4 linked regions of the Homo sapiens genome follow. The protein of the gene in region 4 interacts with the protein of the main gene of each other region in a pairwise test. Each region holds a gene or a part of one and is shown on either strand. Other genes may lie near its edges. The genes, in order: BNIP2, COQ8A, SPART and DESI2.

Evidence for each region.
Region 1: the proteins of DESI2 (region 4) and BNIP2 interact in binary tests that used the Homo sapiens proteins (3 or more experiments, as listed by UniProt).
Region 2: the proteins of DESI2 (region 4) and COQ8A interact in binary tests that used the Homo sapiens proteins (3 or more experiments, as listed by UniProt).
Region 3: the proteins of DESI2 (region 4) and SPART interact in binary tests that used the Homo sapiens proteins (3 or more experiments, as listed by UniProt).

The regions. Positions count from the first base shown.
Region 1 is NC_000015.10:59,665,293-59,672,327, forward strand, and holds part of BNIP2 (BCL2/adenovirus E1B 19 kDa protein-interacting protein 2), read right to left. Parts: intron 6,023-7,035; coding exon 5,891-6,022; intron 4,071-5,890; coding exon 3,984-4,070; intron 3,699-3,983; coding exon 3,600-3,698; intron 2,847-3,599; coding exon of another isoform or gene 2,811-2,846; intron 1-2,810.
Region 2 is NC_000001.11:226,943,291-226,950,325, reverse strand, and holds part of COQ8A (atypical kinase COQ8A, mitochondrial), read right to left. Parts: intron 7,012-7,035; exon of another isoform or gene 6,923-7,011; intron 844-6,922; exon of another isoform or gene 691-843; intron 1-690. UniProt on the Homo sapiens protein: Atypical kinase involved in the biosynthesis of coenzyme Q, also named ubiquinone, an essential lipid-soluble electron transporter for aerobic cellular respiration.
Region 3 is NC_000013.11:36,308,392-36,315,426, forward strand, and holds part of SPART (spartin), read right to left. Parts: intron 6,031-7,035; coding exon 5,836-6,030; intron 5,692-5,835; exon of another isoform or gene 5,577-5,691; intron 4,087-5,576; coding exon 3,928-4,086; intron 3,845-3,927; coding exon 3,754-3,844; intron 1-3,753. UniProt on the Homo sapiens protein: Lipophagy receptor that plays an important role in lipid droplet (LD) turnover in motor neurons.
Region 4 is NC_000001.11:244,705,112-244,709,554, reverse strand, and holds the end of DESI2 (deubiquitinase DESI2), read right to left. Parts: intron 4,000-4,443; coding exon 3,766-3,999; 3' UTR 522-3,765; downstream 1-521. UniProt on the Homo sapiens protein: Has deubiquitinating activity towards 'Lys-48'- and 'Lys-63'-linked polyubiquitin chains. Deubiquitinates 'Lys-48'-linked polyubiquitination of RPS7 leading to its stabilization.

The sequences.
Region 1 (7,035 bases), on a different chromosome or scaffold from region 4:
TTTAACATTCAAAAATATCTAATATAAATTAATTATTGGCTAGACACAGTGGCTTACACCTATGATCCCAGCACTTTGGAAGGCCGAGGCGGGCGGACTGCTTGACCAGGAGTTTGAGACCAGCCTGGGCAACATGGCAAAACTCCGTCTCTACAAAAAATACAAAAATTAGCCAGGTGTGGTAGTGTGCACTTGTAGTCCCAGCTACTCAGAAGGCTGAGGTGGAAGGATTGCTTGAGCCCTGGAGACGGAGGCGACAGTGAACCGAGACTGCACCACTGCACTCCAGCCTGGGTGACAGAGCAAGACCCTGTCTCAAAAAAACAAAACAAAAACCCATCAAAAAGCTTATTTATTTAGTGGTGGGTTGGACATCAGTCATATCAAAATTTACGCATGTGGGCATTAGAAGGATTACATAATTACCACATAATAATTACAGACAACCCTTCAAAGCTAACAGTCTATTACTATTACATTTGTAGTGGTCTGAATAACTGATGAAGGGACCTTTAAAACAATCCGGTATTAGATAAAGAAAAATATTTTTCATATGTTTTTATTCTCATCACCCATTACTATGCCCACCTGAATATTAGTGAAACAGACCTAAAAGCCCTGGTCTGTGGTAAAGCCAAAGTAACATTTTAAAATATTTAAAATATTGTTATAAAAAATTTGGAATGTATTTCTGATAAGGCATGCAAAATATATCAAATCCTCTTAACATCTGAAATATCCTTACCAACTAATTTCATAATTATTTTTAAACTCCCCTGAAACATTTTAACAATCTGTATCTGCATGGCCACACTTGCATCCAGTTGTTTGAAAGAAACATTTTAAACATTTAAACTGCTATCCTTTTTCTGTCACTGGGGACACTGGATCTCCCTGTTGTCAACATTTCTTCAACCCTCTTCCCCACAAGCCCCTCAAGAAAATGGTTTTGCCCCTTCTTCCCCTGCTCCCCAAAAACCTGCCATAGGGACTCATAGCTTCATACTCTTCTTAGCACCACTACTTATCATATCATGCAGTTGTCACCTTAAATAAGCTCCCTTGCACCTAGCTTCTGTAAAGTTTGGTTTAGGCTGGGCGTGGTAGCTGACGCCTGTAATCCCAGCACTTTGGGAGGCCGAGGTGGGTGGATCACTTGAGATCAGGAGTTCGAGACCATCCTGGCCAACATGGTGAAACCCAGTCTCTACTAAAAATGCAAAAATTAGCCAGGCATGGTGGTGGGTGCCTGTAATCCCAGCTACTTGGGGGGCTGAGGCAGCAGAATCGCTTGAACCCGGGAGGCAGAGATTGCAGTTAGCTGAGACTGGGCCATTGCACTCCTGCCTGGGTGACAAGAGTGAAACTCTGTCTCAAAACAAAACATGCCTCTCTACCTAAATTTAATTTAAAAATTAAATTTTATCATTTTCAGATTGACAAAAATTTATTATTTTTTAAGACTAAAGAAACTACAAAAAACAGAACGTTTTTGAAAGATACATGTAATCATTCTATTTATGGTTAAACACAAGTAAAAAAAAAATCAAGATAAAATAGTGACAGGTTTCAAACAATATATTTAAATAAAAAGTACAAATTCCATATTTTTTCTGATGTCTAAATTACTTAACAGTATTAAAAACTTTTTTTAAAAAGGCTTAATACAGCATATTTTATCAACAAAGGCAATTCACTGTGAAATCTATGAAGCAGCTGGCTTCAAAATATTCTACAATTACAAATCATATTTTTAATTTCAGCCACTTGTCTGTCGAATGCACAGCAATGCCTAGAAAGGAATGTGAAATCAGCATGATCTAAAATCACTGTCTACATTTCTATGTTAAAGTGTTGGTTAAACTGTGAAGTGTCATATAGAAGTGTAAAACTGATTCTATCACAAAGTCTACTAAATTCTCACTCATCAACAGAAACAAAATGTGTTCAAAGTTAAGAATGTTCCAGTTAGTTACAGTTGGCTCCTTAGAATGGTCAAGATAATTACATATAAATCTCTCACCGTAACTCTTAAGATTGTATTAAACTATGTTTTGCTAATTTAATTGCCAATATTTTAAAGATCTAACAAACTAGATCTAAATTCTACGTTTTTCTAAATTATTATACAAAATTCTAAGTATTTTATACCCTTGCCTTTCATCATCTATGTCAAGGTATCAATAGATAATAGTTTGTTATGCTCAAAGCAGAAGTGTTCAAAATTAAATTTAAAATAGAAAGTGAAGTGTTTAACTGTTAAATGGGACACTGAGATTTTAGGTATTTTATCACATGTAGAATTTGACTGGTTAGCAAGCCATTTAATTTAAGCATAAAAGGAAACCAATGTTGGTTAGCCAAAGTATATATGCATTGCAAATATAATAATCAACCCCAGGGAAATAAATTGAGAACTTTTAAAAAGTCTGCAAAAATATTTCAAAAGCACAAGTTAGCGATTTAAAGAAAATGGTGAAACAGATAAAGTCTTAAAATTATTTGGTGTTCCAAATACCATTTTTAGTAATTTCTCTGGTTTCACCATTAGTACTTAGACTAAGAAGGAGAGAGAAGGGTCTGTGGTTTTTAATTGCTAATTGGCATCATATATGGCAATAAAACATGGTGAATCCAAGTCATATTCAGCCTTAGGAACTCTGGGTTCACCCTGTATTTGGAAGTTGGGGTACATTTATATTTGCAAATGCTATTATCTTTGTCTACAAGCTAACCAACCAATAAGGAAGAGTTAGTCTGCAATGCAAATGGACTAGTCTAGATGCAACCCAGTCAAGGTGTGCATATACCTTTTTTGTTTCTTTTTAAACTTTTCTTCTTCATACCTTTGTAGGGAAGAGTTATTTCAGTAAATATACATGTTATGAAAATGAATAAAAACTTGAAAAAAGCTACTAAAAATAAACTCATTTAAATTTTCCAGCAAAACCAAAAATATTTACTACATGATGTAGAAAGTAAAAATTTACTTAATAAATCTGACTTTCATACATTAAATAGACTAAAACCTCAGGTGAGCAGAACAAAGAAACTTTTCCACATGCATTGTAATACTCAGTTATTTATGTTAACAGCCTTCTACCAAGTCCAAGAAGTTACATGGAAGAATGTGAATCTGATAATCAGAACAGAATTTCAGTCACTGGAAAACATTAAGGTTATGATGATTTAAATATTTTTATTTATTTAGCAATATGATTATTCAATAATAATATTGATGATCAGTTTACTCAAATTTGTTGAGCACTATGTTCAAGTTTGGAGAATGCTCTTTAGTACTGATCAATTAGAGAAATCATCTCTTAGATTATAAGTAGTCTATAAAAGTATAACATGAATCACAACCGGAAATAATTTATCCTAGTTCTTCAACTGACAGCCTGAAGAAAATGCTAACTTAGGGGGATGGTGTGGGAAAATGGCTTCTTCCTCTTTTTCTTTGTTACACACACACACACACGCGCGCGCGCGCACAGTTATAAAATATAATACATAAAGAATGAGTATTGAAAAGTATTATCCATTGCACATCAAAATGTTAAGATCCAATACAATTAAGGAAATAAAACAAAACATACTGTTTTATGCATTCTGGTATGCCAACGTATTCCATGGGGACAAGTTCTGCTAGTTCTGCCAAATTAAACACGTATCTAATTTTTTGGCTGAATTTCGAGCTATGGAAGAAAATAAAAATAATTACTTCCATATTTCTGACAAATACAATGGATACAATGTTTACAAGATACAAAAATCATGTCATTTTGAATGTTCAAAACACAAAAAGATGATAAATGTCTGAGGTGATGGATGTACTAATCACCCAGGTTTGATCATTATACAATGTATACACATATCAAAATATAGCTCTGTATCCCATAAGTATGTATAGTTATTATGTGTTAACTAAAAATAAATAAATAAAAAAAATAAAATTAAAGTCAATGGCTCTCAAAAATTACCTAATAAATGGTCTTGTAACAGCCAGAAGTGTTCTGATAAACCAAGAAGGATGTACAATGATTAGGGATTTTAGATTTTTCCGTAACCTGGAGTTTAAAAAAAAAACACACACACACAAAGAAAATTAAAAATTTCTATAAATTCTAATGCTGCAAGTTTATACAAAATAATAGTTGAAAAATCTCACCCAAAAGTTCTCAATTAGGTGTGATACCCCTGTAGACAAGAAAATGCACTCTTAAATTCTTATGGTCCCTCCTACTGCTATGAAATGAACTTTACTTCATTTGGCCAGATTTACGTCCACAGTATAGCCTGTTACTAAATGTCTCCTAGCATACACATTCACTTGTCTTCAGGACTCTGTAAACAGGGAAAGAGGCCAATACTGAATGTAAAAGTAAACTATTCTCATTTTCCAAGACTAGGGAGAAATTGGTGCTAAGTTCTTCAAAACCATGAAAAGCACTGTGCAGGCAGAGAAGTGTGAGTGGAGAAGATGACCACAGGAACAAAAACAAATCAGATCTAACTCCTATTCTTAAGGAATTTAAAGTTTTGATTAAAAATTAAAGGTTTTATCCTAGACTTCTCCTTTTTAAATGACTAAATACTCTTTGTATTATGCATATTTCACACATAAAGTGAGATACATATATAATCATAAGAGCTAGCCAATGTCAAATTTAGATGTGAAGAGAAACCTATTAATGGGTCTGACTTGATTTAAATTAGCCACAGCAAGATCAAACCAATCGGAAGATCACATTCCTTCCATTAAGTACTGATGACTAACTCCCAAGACAAAACACTTCTAAAGCTTGTTCCAAAGAAAGATTACAACTAAATAAGCACCATTAAAAAACATAAATACTGAGCGCTGTGGCTCATGCCTGTAATCCTAGCACTTTGGGAGGCTGAGGCAGGTGGATCGCTTTAGTCCAGGAGTTCAAGAACCAGCCTGGGCAACATGTCAAAACGCTGTCTCTACAAAAAATACAAAAATTAGCTGGGTGTGGTGGCACATGCCTGTAGTCCCAGCTACCTGGGAGGCTGAGGTGGCAGAATAACCTGAGCTTGGGAGGTTGCCGCTACAGTGAGCAGAGATTGCACCACTGCACTCCAGCCTAGATGACAGAGTGAGACCCTGTCTCAAAACAAAACAAAAACAAAAACATAAAACATGCTAAGCACTATAAATTAGGCAAAACTCAATGTAATGAAATAGGAAACATACTACATTCTCCATCCTTTGCCAAGACGTAAATAATAGGAAAAAAAGTGTTCAATGTGGAGAAAATTGCATCTTATAAATAAGGAGAAAGTCTTCAATTAAATAAGGAGAAATATAAAGCTACTTTGTAAGTTTGAAGAATTAAGGTTATTCTTTATAGAAAAATCAAAATTGATTTCCCTCACAATATTCTAAAATGCTATCTTTAGAAAACAGAAACCTGCCATGAAATAAATAAATAAAATTTAAAAAATAAATGGTGTTTTAAAATAGCAACAGAAGGCTGGGCGCGGTGGCTCACGCCTGTAATCCCAGCACTTCAGGAGGCCGAGGCGGGTGGATCACCTAAGGTCAGGAGTTCGAGACCAGCCTGACCAACATGGAGAAACCCCGTCTCTACAAAAAATACAACATTAGCTGGGCGTGGTGGCGCATGCCTGTAATCCCAGCTACTTGGGAGGCTGAGGCAGGAGAATCGCTTGAACCTGGGAGGTGGAGGTTGCGGTGAACCGAGATTGTGCCATTGCACTCCAGCCTGGGCAACAAGAGTGAAACTCCGTCTCAAAAAAAAAAAAAGTTAAAAAAAAAAAATAGCAACGAAAAACAAAGTTTGATTTCCTAAAGCCATTATAAAATTTTTTCAGACTAGCTTTCAACTTGTATTTGTATTACCTTCTATCAATTTGCTGATAACATTTCCTGAGCCATCCCAGACTGGGCATTTTTCTTCGAGTTGTTGCACCATTTAAATAAACTATCATGTAGTTTTCTGCTACTAATAGCTCCAAAGTGCCAATAACATATCTGTAAAAAACAAATTAAGTTTAAGCCTTAAAAATCACTGTGCATAACTGAACTAGGTTCTCTAAATTGTACCATTATACAATTCCTTCCTCTCTCCTACAATGAGAGCAACAATGAAAATGCTCAAACCGCATTAGCTAGTATTACGATTATCTTATTTTTTAGAGATATATTTTGAAATGTTTCTAGGTGAAATGATTTGCTCCTGGGATTTGCTTCAAACTTGTAAACTGGGGGTTAGAAGTGGGAACAAAGTATAAATTGGTAATTGTTGAAGTGACTGATACATGAAGATTTGATATACTTCTCTTTACCCCTGTGTATGTCTGAAACTTTCCACAATACGGTTTTTAAAAACTGCACTAACCTGAGAAATAGAATGACCTTGTGGAAAAAGAACTGATTTGGCTCAATTATATTGGCCTTCTAGGGGTAAATGTAATTTAGCCACATGATTTTGAGACAAAAATCACTTCTTTACACTTAATGTGCCTGCAAATGTTAACATAAAACAGTTGGGACAGGTAAGGCATGGTGGCTTACTTGAGCCCAGGAGTTTGAGACCAACCCTGGCAACATAGTGAGACTCTGTCTCTACCAAAAATTAAGAAGTCAGCAGGATGTGGTGACATGTGCCTGCAGTCCCAGCCACTAGGGAGGCTGAGGTAGGAGGATGGCTTGAGCCCGTGAGGTCAAGGCTGCAGGGAGCCGTAGTTGTACCACTGCACTCCAGCCTGGGTGACAGAGTGAAACTCCATCTCAAAACAAAACGAAACAAAGTTGGAACAAATAATCTGAGATATATTTCCCAGTTTTAAAATGACAATTTTTCTCTTGAATTGGAAAACTATCGTTCCATAATATCAAAGAATAAGGACTCATCTAGTCCTGTATCTAGTAACAAATACTTTTACTTTAACCTTCATTCTGTTGTTCACAAACTTGCACGTGAAAAGATCTGGGATATTTATTTTTCTGAGACAGGGTCTTACTCTGTCACCCAGGGTAGAGTG
Region 2 (7,035 bases), about 18 Mb from region 4:
CCTGGGTGAGTTGCCCTGTGGTGAGCACTGGGTTGGGAGCTGGGCAGGGTTGGGGGTGATATAAAAGCAGCAGAAGGCAAAGTTCCAGCCTCTGATGATAGTCCAGAGAAGGACCCAACACTGTGAGCGAACCTGCATGGGCTCAGAGCTCCAACCACAGGCAGGCAACAGAGGGTCCCAAGCAGCCTCTCCCACTCTGTGAGTTGATATAGCCGATGACACACAAGGCTTTTAAAGGCCAACCAGCCAAGCGCAAGGTCCTGATGGCAATTTAGTTTTCTGACTAAAAACCTAGTGAAGTTTACTGCTTAAAACATTTAAATTAAAATATTTGGCTCAGGAAGTGATACTGGTGACATGGTTAAGATGCTCTGAGGTTAGGTGATCTGGGTTCACATCATGACTCTGCCACTGACTTGCTAGTGTGACCTAAATCAAGTCATGTGAGCTTATCTTTGTGCCTCAGTTTCCTCATCTGTTCTTGAAAGGACTGGATAAATCCATGTAACAGCATTCAGGACATATAGTAGGTGCTTAAAAACCATTAGCTAATGCCATTATTATTAGTAGTAGTATTGCAAGCACACAGACATTCTGGAATGAAGTTCAGACTTGGTGAGACCAACGGTTAGGGTGAATGGGATCAGTCTGGATAACCCGCAGTTGTTCCTGCCAGGCACAGTCTCATACCTGAGTTGGGAGGAAGGCTGGGCTGGGGAGGACCAGTGTGGTTTATTTAGTGCTGTGGTATGAGGCATCATTCAGGAGAGGCAGTCCAAAGTGCTGGCAGCCTGCTTCGAAACCAGGGACACAAATGTCCACTGGTATTCCTTACCACTTCACCTTAAAGGAGAAAACAGCATGGGAGGCTTTTGTCCAGGTACATTCAGGGAGAGGCAGTTGGGAAGAAAACCCCTCTAACTCCCACAAGCTCCCCAGCTCCGAGCCATGGAACACTCTCCTGCCAGATTCCTCTCCCTATAAAAAAACCCACGTTCATCATGCCAACGCGTTGCTCAAATGGCTCCTCTACCTGTAGACATGTATGTAGACATATATATAAAACCCAAACTCCTGCGCCTGAAGTCCCAGGCATCGAAATCAGGCCCCCGGCCTCCTTTCCAGCCTCCAGCTACGCGCGAGCCATGTGAGCGCACTCCACTCTGCAGGTCCTACTTTCTCAGGCAGGCCCGCTCGCCCCTTCATCTCTGTACGTCTGAAAACCCACCCATTAGCCAAGGGTGAGGGCCTTGGGGCCTTGGGGCTGGGAATCAGCTCTGCCCTGACCAGCTGGGCTGCTCCAGGCATATTCTCGAACCATCTCTGACCTGTTTCCTCTCCTCGAAATGATGGTATAAGTTATTATATTGTCCAATATAAATGGAGGGGTGGGTGGATATACTTTGAAATGTGTTAAAGCACCATATAAATTCAAGAACGTATTCCTATTCAGGCCCTTGATTCCCAGCTCTTCCATATTTACGTTCTCCTGACAGCTGATCTAACTTGCTGGTCAGATTCCTACATTGTAAGTTACTCTTCTTCTTGCACATGGACCTCTCTTCTCTTCAAACTATAAGCTCCTTGTGGGAGGCTCTTGTCTCAGACAACTCTGACTCTTCCCACTCCACCCACACACACAGAGTGATCCACCCACACAAATTACAAGCGCAAGCGTTGACTGAATTCACGAACCACTGCCACCCAGGAAGGTAATTAAGGATCCTAAAGTTGAGGTTGAAGGGTTTCTTTCAACGTTTCTTTCAGACGCTTACAGGGTTGTCTTTAAATCTGGCCAAAATACTGTGGGTGGCTGTGGTAGGCTGAATAATGGTGTCTCAAAGATACCCATACCACAATCCCCAGAACCTGTGAATGTTACCTGCAAATGGGACTTTGCAGATATGATGAAGTCAGGGATCCTGAGATGGGGGATTATCCAGGTGGGCCCAATGTAATCACAAGGGCCCATATAAGAGGGAGGCAGGCAGGGCAGAGTCAGAACGAGGTGATGGGAGACAGAAGTGAGGCTGGAGTGATGCCATTGTGAGGAAGAGGCCACAAGCCAAGGAATGCAGGCAGCCTCTAGGCTGGAAAAGGCAAGGGGTCGGGTCCTGCCCTTGAGCCTCCAGAAATGAACCAGCCCAGCTGATACCTTGATTCTAGCCTAGTGAGACCAATTTCAGACTTCTAACCTCCAGAACTGTAAGATCATACATTTATGATGCTTTGAGCCACAAACTTTGTGGTAATTTATCACAACAGCCATAGGAAATTAAAGCAGATCCTTGGGTTGGGGAGAGGGGCTGTATTCTAGAATAATTTCCAGACCATTCTTCTAAATTAACTTTGGTCACTCCACAAATACTACTGAATGCCAACCAAGTGCGAGGCACCAAGCTGGGTGGTAGACTACCCCACAGACAGCTCAGTGCATTCCTGTTCTTAATGACGGAGTCCTGTTGACTTTCTCTATATTGGGCCCATACTACATGCCAGGCAGATAGATATATATATATATATATTTTTTTGAGACAGGGTCTTACTGTTGCCTAGGTTGGAATTCAGTGGCATGATCACAGCTCACTGCAGCCTCAACCTCCCCAGGCACAGGTGATTATCCTGAGTAGCTAGGACTACAGGTGGGTACCACCACACCTGGCTAATTTGTTTGTATTTTTAGTAGAGACAGGGTTTCACCATGTTGCTCAGGCTGGTCTCGAACCCCCGACCTCAAGTGATCTGCCCACCTCGGCCTCCCAAAGTGCTGGGATTATAGGTGTGAGTCACCGTGCCTGGCCTCGGTTTTATATTCTTAATCTTTCAAAACACTTTTACTTCAGGTTTAATATCTCAATGAAATAGGAATAATAACAAGAACAGCTACCATTTATTATTCCCCTCTGTCTGCCTGTCACTTTATATTACCTCTAGTTCTTACAAAGACCTGGTGAGGTATTATCCCCACTCATTGATAGGATAATTAAAGCTCATCAAGGCTGAGCAATCTCCTAAGGGCCAAAGCTGTGGGATGCTGGACCCTTCCACACCTGTCTGACTCAGGCTCCAGTCCTTTCTTCTTACTGCCTAGGAAGCTGAGAGATAGCAGAGAAGAACACTGCCCCAAATCAATAACTCCTTTTTTGTTAAATCAATAGTCACTCAATATGAGACATCAGCAAGGTTTACATCCTGAAATGTGTCTTCCTGGTTACAGAAAATTGAGTCATAAAAATTCTGGGGCCAGCTGGGCTCTCAAAGGCCATCTGGCCAAACTCCCTGCTCTGGAAAGTTTGTCAGCTGCCAGGACTGAGGGTATCACAATTCTCAGCACCAGTGATCCTACCCACTAGAGGCAAAGCTTGGTTCCAGAGCCAGTTTGATCTTAAACATAAATAGTGGAAAGAGGCAGACGCCCTACACTGAAGACTGCCTCTGGGTGTGCAAGAGCTAGGAGGAGCCATCGGGCACACGGCCCTCAGTCTTGCCACACTCAACACCAGCACCAACCTTTATTAGCATCACCTCCAAATGCCACACACAGGCCAGGTGTGGACATGCACACATCACTGGTATGGAAGTTAAATAAACATGTTCTGCCCTGAGGTCACACACAACCCTTAGGCACTACATGTGTATGTAAAACCTCGATAGCTTTTAAAATCACCCAGTTAACCCAGACAAGGGGCAATCCTAGACAGACAACAACCACACACGCAACGAGAAATGAGAAGAGGCTCAGCAGGGTGCAAGGGGACCACAGACCCAGGAGAGGTGGCCATCTCCTTGCTGATCTCCACTCTCCCTGGTCTGGCCTGGCCAGCAAGGCCCTTCACTGTGGAGCCCCAGACACCTCTGCAGCGATACCTCTCGCTAGATGCCTCCGTGCCCCAACGCTTCAGCCAGAATGGACCCCCGGCCCCGCCCAACACCCACACAGGTTTTCCAGCTTCCACATCCTGCTCCCTCCTCCCCATGGAATATCATTTCCCCTGCTGGAATCTTGGCCACCCTGCTGGACTGGTAAACCCCTCCATAGGCAAGTCATCTCCTTTCCTCTAAACTCCCTCATCTCTTAATGGCCTAAGGTCACCTCGCCATGCCCTGTATGACTCTGTGTGTGCCTGTCCCATTTCCCTTACTGCAAGGTAAGCTCCGGAGGGAGGGGCCCTCTCTTTCCCAGTTCTGTACCCCCAACGGGGTCTGGCACTGTCCTCATACACACGAGTTTATTAGCATTATGAGTCAGTGAGGCAGGACCCAGGCACCCAGGCTCCGTGGCTTCCTGAGCTCCCTCATCGAGAGCCCAGGACTGAAGAGACCACCGAGGAGGCTGAGCACCAGGGGAACCTGAATCCCCAACATGCACAGCCACAGAAATGGCAGCAGCACCCTGTTCAAAAAGTGATTTTTACAGGAGCAAAAGCCAGATGAGTTTCCAAGCCAGCTTCATAATCCCGCTCATGGTGGGCACACAGACCCAGGGAGGGAGCAGGGGACGCAGTCACTGCTACTGCTTCCTCTGCGTCACCCCCGTCCCTGTCTAAGACTGAGGGAAAAGAGGAGGGGCTGAAGCCAGCAGGCAGCTGTTCCTCAGCAGGCCAATCAGCCCTGGCCCATGAACCGTGAGCACCAAGCAGGTGTAAACAGCAGCTACAACAGGCATCGCGGCAGCACAATGTCCAACCCTTGACCACATGCTGGCTGTAAACACCTTAGGGAGCAAGAGCCACAGGATTTTTTCAATCTCGGGAAGATTAGAGATGTTTGCTCAAGCACGTGTCAAACAGTAACCACCTTCAGCTTACCGGGCAATCGACTCTTACTTTTACCCTCCTCTGAGCCAGTATCAGTGCCAAACAAAAAATGTGCCAAGCACAGAACAAACACTGGGCTGGGGCCCAGGCTCTGAGCTTGAACTTTAACATTTCTTTTCATGTGGACTGTCCCCAGGACCCCTCATCCAGCCCCGTGAACAGCAGGGACTTGCCACCAGGTCCTCCAGTTCCCAGATGACACCGCATATATTGTGATGAGGGCCGACGGGGAGGACCAACAGCAAGGCCACCAAGCGCGGGTGACCTCAGGCACACCGCTTCTCCTCTTGGGGCCTGCGTTTTCTCATTTCCTCATGTGTAAGTGAGGCGACTGACCTGGAGGAGGTCTAGTTCCCAGAGATTAGGAAAGGGCCATGCATCCCTGGAGTGCAGAAAGTCAGCAAGGAGAGCACACACAGGGCTGTTCTGAAAGCTGGGATGTAACGGGGTCTAGAAAGAGTAATGCTCAAAACAACGCAGATACTGATCCTTCTAGAGATTCTATGAAATAGTGAGAGGTAAGAGGCAGACCAACCCTGCTGTCTTCAGAAAGGCAGAGAGGGGCGCTACAGCCTCTCTGTCTCTCAGGAAACACACCTCTGGGAAATGGAAAATTCCAGTGGACGGTGCAGAGGTAGGGAGAGATAAGGGACTGGGCTTTTCCAAATGACCCGGAAACACCTACCTTCCTGCCTCCCTTCTACACATACACACACACTCTCTCTCTCTCACTCTCTCTCTCTCACTCTCTCTCTCTCACTCTCTCTCTCTCTCTCTCTCTCTCTCTCTCTCTCTCTCTCTCTCTCTCTCTCTCTCAGGGTACAACTCCTCAAAGGATGCTGAGGCACCTAAGGCTCTTCAAGCCCCCACCCCTGGCCCTCTCACATTAAACAGAAGGCCTCGACCCCTCTTTAGCGGACCTTTGTTACTCCAGAAATGGGGGCAACCAGATAGGAGGGCCCGCACATTCTTGGCCACATCTCTCAGACCCTTCCCCTGCCTCTGTCCAATCTCCTCCCACACTGACCATCCCTCCTCCTTCCCGCAACAAGACCTTGCCCCTGACCTATTTTTTTCTTTTGCCTTCAATCATAAAAGCCCTCCCCTGAAGCCCACAAGCCCACTCTCTGCTCTCCTGTACCAAACATTTAAATAAACCTCCCATAGGCTCTGCTTCTCCTCCACCCTCTGGACATGGCTACCATCTCCCAAGGATGGAGTGCACTTGCCATCTTCCCTGCTCCCTCGGCACACACTTTCTGGCCCCAACCCCAAGCTGCCCCTCTGTGACACCTGAGGGCTCAAGCCAGTGGGTCTCCTCAGCCACCCCCTGCCCCACAGTGTTCCCTGCTGGCCCCACACTCTTCCCAGAAGCCCTCCCTCCTCCCTCCTCTCTGGCCTCACCTCCTCAGCTTCCTCCCCCAGCTCCTCTTTCTCCACCTACTCCAAGGCCTGGGAGTTCCCAGGCTGGTCCTCGACACCCCTGCCTCCCTGCCATCTGCACTGGCTCCTGGGGTGCCAGAGCCCCTCCACAGGCTCTGCACTGATGCCTCCCCACACTCAGGCCAGGCAGGACCTCTCAACAACCGAACCCATTTCCAGAACAAACCAAGTTACACACACACATACCGCATCACCACTTCAAAGACCCACAGGCAACTGGAAAGGGGTGCAGGGAAATTTCGGAGGGTGATGAAATTGTTCTATAGCTTGATTGTGGTAGGGGTTATGTGACTATGTGCGTTTGTCAAACTGCGCAGAACTGCACACTAAGAAGGATGAATTTACCGTATGCAAATTATATCAAACAGGATGGAAAGAAGTCCCATAGGCTCCCATCATGTCTAAAACTAAGATGACCACCTTCTCCCAAACCAGCTCTTCCTCCATCAACCAGCTCCTCCCCCTGATTAGAAATCTCAGCCATATATCCAGTCAGGTAGTCAGTCTAGAAATTCCACCTGCATAAATTTCTTTGAATCCATGCCTTCAGTTCTATCTCCCCTTGGGGACTCGGGCCATCCTCACTTCTCACAAACCACCTCCGTGGGGCTCCCACCCCTCCATATGTGCAACTCCAGAAAGAGCAGGACCCTCGAACTCACTCACTCCCACCAGCTCTCCTTTCCACTGGCTCTCCCGAGTTCCTGGCTGTTGCTTAACAGGAATGACAGAAGTATCTCCAGATGCCACTGTCAAATCAAGACAACTCTCTGTC
Region 3 (7,035 bases), on a different chromosome or scaffold from region 4:
AAGCTACTTAACTAAATTCTCACTTACCTGGTTTTTATTTAAATTCCATGAATCTTTGGAAGAAAGGATAAAAAGAATAGCAATAATACAATAGAAATAAATGAGCTGAGAATCACTGTTAAAAATATGCTATTTATCATATTAAGTTCTCATTAAGGACCAGAAGTACAAAATCTACATTAAAATCCAGTATTTCCTAGTTATGTGAATCCCAAACTTTTAATAAGCTAATTGTAGTTAGGTAAGTTTTTTTTTTTTTTTTTCATTAGAGTAGGCCATAAAACCCAACAAAGCACTTCCTATTTTCTAATATGATAATCTAAAAATAATTCACTTTTGGCCTGAAAGGCATTTCTGAATTTCTCCTGTTCTTGCTACAAATAAAGAACTATTTTTCTAATTATGACTGATCCAAAGTAACCTCAGGGTCATAAAACAATGAATGAATATTAGAGTTCAGGCCACAGGTGACAAGAAGTGAGTTGGAAGACTTGAGTTTCATATTTCTATCAGAAGAATTTGAGATCTATTGTATGTTTTATCTCTCAACTCTTGGTAAAACTGATACTCTGGCCAGGTGTGGTGGCTCACGCCTGTAATCCCAGAACTTTGGGAGGCCGAGGTGGGCAGATCACGAAATCAGGTGATCAAGACCATCCTGGCTAACACAGTGAAACCCTGTCTGTACTGAACATACAAAAAATTAGCCGGTCATGGTGGCGGACACCTGTAGTCCCAGCTACTAGGGAGGCTGAGGCAGGAGAATGGTGTGAACCTGGGAGGCGGAGGTTGCAGTGAGCCAAGATTGCGCCACTGCACTCCAGCCTGGGTGACAGAGTGAAACTCCGTCTCAAAAAAAAAAAAAAAACTGACACTCCAAAATGATATGCCACATTGCTTTGATTTGATTCAAAGGTATGTATGTCCCAGAATGTAAACTAGTTCAGCCACTTTTGGGAGATATCTCAAAAAACTTAAAATGGAATTACCATTTGATACCCAAAAGAAAATAAACTGTTCTATCAAAAAGACACATGCACTCACTCACATGTTCACTGCACTATTCATAACAGCAAAGACATGGGATCAACCTAGGTACCCATCAACAGTGGACTGCACAAAGAAAACATGCTAATATATACACCATGGAATACTACACAGCCCTAAAAAAATGAAATCATATCCTTTGCAGCAACATGGATGCAGCTGGAGGCCATTATTCTAAGCGAATTAATGCAGGAACAGAAAACCACATGTTCTCACTTATAAATGGGAAATAAACACTGGATACTCATGGACATAAAGATGACAACAATAGACACTGGGGATTACTAGGCCGGGGAGGGAGGAGGGGAGTGTGAGCTAAAAGACCATCTATTGGGTACTATGCTTACTACCTGAGTGATGGGATCATTTGTACCCCAAACCTCAGCATCACACAACAAATTCTATGTAACAAGCCTGCACATGTACCCTTTAATCTATAATAATAGTTGAAATTATAAAAAAAGTAAAAATAAAGCAATTCCTACTTCCTATCTTAAAACAAACAAACAAATGTATTCATGCCCCAGACGGAGCAGATCGAACCAATTAAGGATGGAAATTAAATTAGCACTGTAGAGCACAGGTTCTGATGACAGAAACACTTGGTTTATATCCCAGCTCTACTATTCACTAGGAGAGTAATCTTTAACAAGGTATTTAACTTTACATTTCGGTTTCCTCATCTGCAAAATGGAGATAACAGTGTTGAAAATTAATTAATACGTAGGAAAAGCAATGATCACAGTGCCTAATACAAAAGTATGAACTCAACTAAATGCTGTCAATAAGTGGATAATTAACATAAATAACCACGAGTTGTGAATACTATCAATATTGCTCTTCTTTTTTCTTTCTAAATAAATAGTAAGATCCAAACTAATTCAAGGCTAAGAAAGCAACTCAGGTCCTTCATACTAGATTTATTTTTTAGACCTTGATTCTTCTAGTATTGTATAAAGAAAGTAGAGTCAGGTAGAAAGAATAAGGAGCTAAAAGCAGAAGACCCTGCTTTACTCTCACCTTCAATACCACTTGTATAAATTTGTTATATAGTTGTTGCTTCAGCATTTATTTTTAGGCCTGACATAAGTTGCTTGAAACCTAGTTGTATCCCACCACCTTTGGCCTAGTTAAAACTTCTCTCTCCCCCATGCGGTTGTCTGCAATACAGTATACTTGTTTCTCATCTCACTGACTCAAAACCCAACACACCCCCACAGCTGCTGACCACGAGAAAATCCAATGGTCAACACTAGAGTCATGTAAAACTAGAGCCATGTAAATGTTCCCCTGTTCACACTTGTTTTCTTTAAACTAGTCAATCCACAGGCCCCACTGGAAAGCCAAAGGAAGAACACCCATAGACTTTCGTGAAGGCAGTCACACAAATCACCTCTCCCTTGCTCGTGCTCCCTTGTTCACCCACCCTCGCCCCACCCACTGGTTGAGCACTCTGCTATCTCCAGACTTCCTGTTGGCCCTCATGCATACCGCTCTTCTCTCAAGGGTCTGTGAGTAATAAAAAGTTTCTGTTATTTCGTGTGTTTGGTTGTGCTGCCTTCTCTGTGTGTCACCTGACCAACACACCCAAACCTTGCTCTCCTCCTAGTCAGGGTCTCCTAGAGAGTAGCTATCTTAGTAGGAATAAACTGGACACAGGTCAGAAAAGAGCCACAAGGGCATCTGCCATAAACAAGTTCCCTGAGAGAGGGACACCTGGTCATGGGTGTGCCAGGATAAAGAAGTATCCTGTGAAACGCACACTGAAAACATTCACGAGATTTTTTCCTCTTGAGCCACAACACAGCAGGATTAGAATTTATAGCCACTCTCCAGAGACAGACCTTAAGGCCAAATAAGAAAGCAATCATAACACTAATCAGGTGAGTTTGTGCAAATCATTCATTTCTGTTTGTCCATTTCTTAATATATGAAATTGAAGATATACCATCTACCCATTCCAATACAAATGTACAGTGGTAATCAGAGTCAAGTAAGATGTGACATAATTTTTAACAGTCTGTATACCGAGTGGGCTAATATTAACATGGGGTATAAGAGTTTAATTATAATTCAAGTTTTTTCAGGCAGATATCACCCATCAAAAACATGTAGTCAGTTAATAAGGTATACAGAAATTCCAGGCTTTTAAAAAAAATAACCTTATTCTTCACAGTAATGATGAACAAATGTTTATAATGATTAGTAACATAAAGCAAAGTGACAAGAATTCTGTTATTATACTAGAAATACTATTCTTCTCCCTATTTAAGAAAAGCAGTGAGTGAAAAAAATTATTTTATCAGATACTTAATAAAAATATCTTGACCGTCATGGGTTTTTACAAATGCTACAAGAGATTTAGTCCGCCAGGCATGGTGGCTTACGCCTGTAATCCCAGCACTTTGGGAGGCTGAGGCAGGCAGATCACCTGAGGTCAGGAGTTCGAGACCAGCCTGGCTAATGTGGTGAAACCCCATTTCTACTAAAAAAAAAAAATTAGCCGGGCATGGTGGCGTGTGCCTGCAATCCCAGCTACTCGGGAGGCTGAGGCAGGAGAAATGCCTGAACCTGGGAGGTGGAGGTTGCAGTGACCTAAGATCGCGCCATTGCACTCCAGCTTGGGCAACAAGAGAAACTCCCTCTCAGAAAAACAACAACAACAACAAAACAGAGATTTAGTCATTAAAATAAAATTCAACTTACTTGTATCTGACAGTTTGTACAGTTTCTGCTGAAACATTGTTAACGATGCATTTAGCTGCACATTCCAATCCTTGCCAGACAGTTGAAAATCCTGTAAAAATAATATTTAAAACGATGTAAATCTAGTCCAAAGCAAACGGACCTTCATAGTTAAAATTCTGGGCCCTTTGTTACCTTGAACACTACTTGCTGCTACAACCATAGCACCATCCAGAGGAGATTTCCCATCTTTGTCTTTTTTAAGAGATTCTGGAACAAGTTTGCTTCCATGCTTCTTGACATGTGGAGCTAGTTCTTTTCCAACGCAATTTGCTACAGTGCAAACTCCATCAACTAATATGACCATAAAAAAAGAAAACTTAGGAAAAATATATTATTCCCTTGATTTTTACCACTCATCTTGCAACATTCTTAAATGAACATCTAAATTGTTTTACTATATAATGTTACAATTTCTTCTTAAGGATATGAAGCTTAGAGAGGAGGTCTCACTATGTTGCCCAGGCTGGCCTTGACTTGTACTCCTGGGCTCAAGTGATCCTCCTGCCTCTGCCTCCTGAGTAGCTGGGACTACAGGCATGAAGCATAGACTGGTTATTTTTTAAATGAAAGCTTTTGTTTGCTTTAAAGCTGTGCTTGCAGAGCCTACTGATGTTTATAACCTTGCCTCTCAGATATACATGCTCTTGCACTTCTGCTTGAGAAAACCAGCCACCTTTTCTATCTGACTGTTGCAATGCAAGATTGGTTGGTACTTTTAGCTTATTCCAGCTTAGCGTATTCATATTTTTCTACTGATAAATATCTCAGTTATCTCGGTGAATAAAAGTAAACAATCTAAAATCTGATTCAAAAAATACTAAATACCAAAAAAGATAATTTTACTAAATTTAATGGTAATCCATTAAGGTCCTATCTACCCACCTCAAAACACCAAATTTCAGTGCTGTGATTCTCTAAGAGCAAGGATTTAGAAGTACATTGCTTGGGAAGGTTGGCACCAGAATCACTAAGTCAGTTTTTCTCAAACAACAGATCCCTCCCTCTTGACCCTCAACTGCTAAGCAGTAAACTGCTCTCCTTGAAAGAATGTGTCATATCCCTTAGAAGGACTCAAGGATTCACATCCAGTCATGCTGCATAATGATGGTTTGGTCATTTCAGACATTTCATGGTCCCATAAGATTATAATGGAGCTGATTAAGTCCCACTGCCTAGTAACACCACAGCCGCCATAACATCATAGTGCAATTACTTTGTTTTTAAAATAAATTTAGTGTGGCCCAAGTGTACAGTGTTAAAAAGTCTACAATAGTGTATAGTAATGTCCTAGGCCTTCACATTCACTCACCACTCACTCAGTGACTCACTCAGAGCAACTTCCAGTCCTGCAAGTGACACTTCTGGTAAGTGCTCTCTACAGTTTTTATGCCATTTTTTATCTTTTATATACTGCATTCTTGCTGCACCTTTTCTATGTTTAGATGTGTTTAAATGCACAAATACTTACCATTGTGTTACAATTTCCTATAGTATTCAGTACAGTCACATGGTGTATAGGTTTGTACTTAGGAGCAATAGGCTATATCATATAGCCTAGGTGTGGAGTGGCAACGTTTAGGTTTGTGTGAGTACATGCTATGATGTTCACACAATGATGAAATCACCTAATGACACATTTCTTAGAACTTACCTCCTGCGTTAAACAATACATGACTTTACATTCAGAACTCTTTTTCAAAGATACACACATTCTCCTCTCCAACACATCAGAACAACCCTTTAACCAGTTTCTCAAACTTTAATGTGCAAATAAGAATCACCTAGGGATCTTGTGAAAATGCAGATTCTGAATCAGTAGGTGTGTCTGTCCCTAAAATTCTGCATTTCTAAGGATTCCAGATAGGACGATGTGATGTTGCTGGTCCGCAGGTCTCACTATGAATAACAAAGAGAAACTGCTTTGTCCTAATTCTTTATTCTTGAGATTAAACCATCTAAATGAACATGCAGATTAACCCTGGATTAAGACATTATTTTAAATATAACTTTAAAAAGTAAAGTTATCTAGAATTACTTTACCCAGGAACTGACTGACTTTTGCTGCTCCTCCTGTAGCTTGCTTCGCTATATAAAGTCCCTTGGTGACAGCTGGACTAACTTCCACGGGTTTTTCTTCTGGTTGAATCCGCTCTCGGAGTTTAGAAGCACCTTTCTGGATTGCCTTACCAGTAATCTCAGCACCTTTGACTAAACCCCAACTCACCCAGGAAGCACCTTTTTAAAAGAAAATTTAAAATTGCACAATATTAGGGCTAATTATGCTTTTGAACACTTTAATAAATAACATCAACCAGAAAAAAATAAAAGGAGTTTGATATTCAGATGCTAAATGTGCCATGTCATAAACTTTCAAGCTAACTTTATACCTGCAGTTTTCTTCCTGAATACTTAGTGACACAGTTCTGCGTTACTCTATGCTGCCACTACCTAGTACCTAGAAGGCCTGAGATTTAGTGGCAGCTGATAATTTCTGAAGATGACCACAAACAGTATCTCTATATGTTACTTACCACAGTATATTACTGTTAGGTATTAATTTTTAGTTTTGGTGCCATTAAGATAGAATTTGGCCAAAGAACCCAGATATTCTTGTTCTTTTTGCCTTAGGCCAGGCATCTCTTTTCCCCATGAAATCTTGAGGGAGAAAGACAGAAACATCACAAAATGGAAACCAAAGAAACTGCCTCTCAAACACCAAGGCAGAACTCTTACTTTCTTTAGGCTAAAAGCTTTAGTCAGGGGGTCCTGTTCCTTCCTGAATCCTAAACCCAAACTCTTGGATCTCAGCACCGTTTAGCTTGCTACACATACCTGAATGACAAAAACATGAGAACACTCAAATGCATGAGTAGAGAAAATCTAAAAGAAGAAGAGTGAGGCCCAGATAATTTGGCCATTTCTCATGACAGTGGGCCCTAGCCCTTTGCTTTGCTTTGCTTATGTTCTCGCAGCTTGAATGACAGAAGTGCTCACCAGAGGAACAGAGGGATGGAAGGGCCTTCTCTAGTGAGGACAAAAGGTCCTCAGCCAGTGGAAATGTGGGGAAAGGAGTGGGAGAGGGATGGGAAAAGAAAAAACATGTAAGAACAGTGTCCCCTAAGATGGAAGAAGTATTACCCTACTCTGCAGAGACTTTCAATTTAAAATATTTCTTTTTTGGCTAACACTTAACAATGAGCTTTCAAAGCTGAACATATGAAATACTTAATTATGTTCTCT
Region 4 (4,443 bases):
GAATTAGTAGAGGAAAATATTGCTCCACAGTGTGCAAAAAGGCCAGTGGAGGAGAAAGGGGAAGGGGCAGGTTGGAGGTGCCAAGCATTGGAGAACAGGTCCGTAGGAAATGAGCTCATTCTCTCAGGCTCCTGCTTGCTTTGCTGCTTCAAGACAAGGGACAGTGTGTGCATAAGTCGGGGCTATTCCTCTGCAGGTCTGTTCCCTGCACTCTGGGGGAGGAGTCCGTTCTAGCTTGCCCCTCTGCCTCCATTCCCCAGAAGTCAGGGCTGGCACCCCTCCCTGTGAGCAGGTGTGGCTATGCTATCTGACAGCTAAGGCACTGGGCCCACAGATCTGCGCTCAAGATCAATGCAGGTGAATAAAGGTACATGTGCATGTGAGAGGAAGAAAGGATGGAGGGGCTGGCCGTCATGTTCCTGCCGAGCACACGGGATGCTTGGGTTTTAAAAATATACCTCCCCACCCCGCCCAACACAAATACACAACAGTTATAATCTGAAAGAAAGCACTATAAAACATTTCTTATAAAAGTATTTTTTAATAAATCAATGTATTTCAATGTTGTAACATGATAGCCCAATGCTATATCAAGGTAGCAAAAGTGAAGATTCCTGGTATTTTGATATAAACACTATGAATGACAGTACACTTGCATTCAACTTCACAAGAAATTATCTTCAGGTCCATGAAGATTCTTTGACAGCTGTAACACTTTTCAAACAGTAAAGATGTACATGTATTGAAAGAGAAGACAACGAAAGCCTACTAACTGATCTGGGCTCTAAACCATACTGAAGAGAAAGAGATACAATGGTTGTATGGCTAGCTTGCTGAAAAAACATCTAAATCTTTTAAAGAAAGAAAATACAGCATATATCAAAGTTACAGAGTAGCTTACAGAAATGGAGTCATAAGGAGACACACAGATTAGAACCCTGAAGCAGTGAATGTGTTTCTACCCGTTTTGTGATGGAAAGAAGCCATGGATATCGAGTCCTGCAGCTGTCTGTGGTGTTGAATCTCCTCATACACACAATGCTACCAATGGACTAAAACCAGAATTCCCTGCTCTGTACAAATGCTGGTGATGGGTAACTTGCTCTATTGCTGTGGGTCAGAGCAACAGCTGGCTGGATTCAGGCATCAGGACGAGGCTAAGATCATACACCACTGCCTTCTACACTCCTACAGAGTCACACTTTCCAAAGCTGATGCTCCCCTTGTAAGGGTTTAAAAAAAAACCCCAAGGGTATTTAAAGCAAACAGCAGAAACCAGAAGCTTCTGACCCTCTAACATGTATTACTGTCCAACCCACCATGAGAAGTATGTTCACTTGGTGACAACAAAGAGACTCCGTATCATATGTATGTTAATGACCAGATTGTTCATATGGGATTTTTCTTAACAGATTATCAGGTTGAGAATGATTCTTTTTCTCCAAGGGCAAGAAAAAGCTGGCTAAATGCTAGTTAATTAAATCCATTCTCAATTTTGAACTGTAGAGAAGAACCTGACTTGAATGAGATTTTCTAAAGGAAGACATTTCTTGCTCAACCTCAGGTATAATTAGATTATAAGGAATCTCACGTCCAGAATTTTATCTGCTGATTGTTAGTATGGTAGGTAATTGGCCTTAGGACACTATTTCTACTAGAACCCTTTACATTATTTTTAAACTCCAAATGCTGCAGATGAAAGTAAATACAACAAATGCAAGTAAATACAACAAAATAACAATAAAATCACTTGTGTGCTGACTTGCTGGATTCTGGTTAAGCACAGATGGGATGTTCCTGATATTCACTAAGAAGAGTCTAACTAATGGCTACTGTGTGTGTGTCAGTAGCCCAGGTTTAAATCATATATACTTGAATGAATTAGAAAACACTGTACTCCTCACATTATTAAAAATATTACAAGCAAACTGTATCCAAGGCTTTGTACTAACCGTCTGGGGACAGGACTCTCTCTTTTTAGTGAACAAGTCACTGCTAGAGCCTTAGTGTTTTGCCCTCATTTTTAGACCTGAACCAAGTCGACATCTCATTAAGTTCATATATTCCTTTCTTCTGTCAAACCTCTTGAAACAAGCCTTCTGCCCCTAAAGAACTGAGAGTAATTTGTAAAGGCTTTCCTCTCTGGAAACAGAACAGTCGAAAGCATAAATTAGGTTAAGTGGCTTCATTGTCCTCAGGCTAATGCTTATAACCCAAGGTTTATTTTCCCTATGAACAGGGTGTGCTTACGTTGATAAAATGAACCAAAATCAGCTTATGGAAAAGTTAAAAATACAGTTTACTGAAAGATTATGTATCCTCACACAGAGCAATAGCAAACAATCCAATCTAAAAGTTTAAATAAATGTCAATAATTTTAAAACTAACTATATTTTATATGTATATAAAGCTGAAGTCACTGCCTTGGATAGTGTTACACTGCATCCAATATTTTATGAAGGACATTCATTCTTAAGGCAGAAAAATTGAATTTGACATGTAATGACTTGGTTCTTACATCCAAGGATCAAACTAGGAGTAGACTGGAGCAGACAGATTCCTTGCTAACAAGGATTTACCTGTGGTGACAGTTTCATTCTTAGAGTATGTTACGTAAGAGACATACATTTGAGAGAACATATAAATATGAATCTTAAGACACACAAATATGATTTTTTAACGATTGGTCAATGAGACTAGGCATTCTATTATGTGAAATGAGTCCCATGACAAACGCCAACATACTCTTTCTGACATGGTACATAAAAAGTATAAAATATCAAAGAACTACTTTTTTGGGGTAGACATTAGATTCTAGTTTTCAAGGTTTAGTATAAAAGGTAGCCTGAATAGTTAAAAGCAGCTGAATGTCAACTCACTGCTACTTGGAAGGCTACCACTTAGGATATTCCCACACCATCAAAATCCTGTGCAAGGAGGAAATACATGTGTATTAAAATAAAAATGAAGCGCCTCCCCCAATACATGTGCAACATACTTGTCAGTTACTACCAAGAATATCTTGAACGAAAACCAGCTAAACTATAGAATGAGTGGCATCAAAGTCAGAGAGACGTAAGAACATACCACCCCGCCTAGGTGGACGGATATTTGGGATGAAAGCAGGTGTTCCATGGGCACCTGGGGAGATGTGCTACTCAGAGTGGAAGGGGGTGTGAAGAGGAACTGGACCCAGGGTTCCAAGCCCTCAGGGCTGTGTGCTCCTTCACCTCAGGCCAGTCTGATTCTCTGCATCCTGGTGCCAACAACTTTAACAAAACAAACACAAATCTAAAAGACCATTCTGAAGCAGGTGATGGTGACTATAACTGTTTAAGTACCTTTTTGTGTGCCTATTTATGCCATAGATCTGGCAATTGTCAGAAGTATACAAAGATTACCTGCCTAATTTTTGAAGACATGAAGATTTTCTTCTTTCACTGTGGCAGGAGTCCATGCAAGATTTGTAAACAGCGATACAAGATACTGTAAACATAACTTAACAGAGCTTGTATAAAACAGAAGAAATAAATCCAGATTTACGAGTGGATAAAAAAAACAGAGGGCAGCTTCTTACAAAGTTCTCCCTCCTGCGCCAAGTGATTTTTTTTTTTTGATTACAAATATAATCCTGAGCTGAAAAACTGGGATTTGGGGGAGAGCCATCTTTGCATACAAAATATCTAAAGGATGCTTCTCTGTTTACTTTTCTCTAGTGATATTCGACTGCCAGAGACAGTTCTGAATGTGTGACTTTGGAGACATTTATAGTTTAGTGTGGCGCCCGGGTCTGGAGCCTGCTGCAGTGCTTGCCACGGAAGCGGATGCGGCAGCATCCTCTGCTTCCTCCAGTTCATCCTGGAGTTCTTGGCTGACACTAGACTGCAGGGCTGCGGGCGTGAGCCACTCCTTCGGGAGGCAACTCTGTAGAAAGGGTATACAGGAGCTGAAGTAGGCAAGTCGATTGATCCAGCGAGGAATCTCTTTCCCACAAAGAATCTACAGAAGAGAAAGAGTTCTGTATTAGGTAAGAGAGGTTAAGATTACCTGGTCCACTGCCAGGGAGTGGAGGGTGGGAGGAGGGGGGCGGCGTACAGAGAAGCCACGGCAGACTAGCCTTCAGTGGTGTCACTCCAGGCTTTTGATAACAAGCAGCTCTTTACTCAGGACCTGGGCTCCCTACTGTTGGCTCCATTCCTTCCTTTCTAAAGAACCTTGTCAAGTTGCTTACTTTTCATATCTGTGAAATCAAGCTAATTTCACTTGGCTCCTTTCTTTGATCTCTGCAACTGCTGTGAGACACACTGAAAAGTACTTTGAACACACAGAAGACGCTTGTTAATACAATATATTATTAGAGTAATAGAAGCCCCAGGCAATTGGAAGAGTCAATCTTGGATATTTTCCTATTTGTGAATTCTTCTTTTTCACAGATTCTTTTTG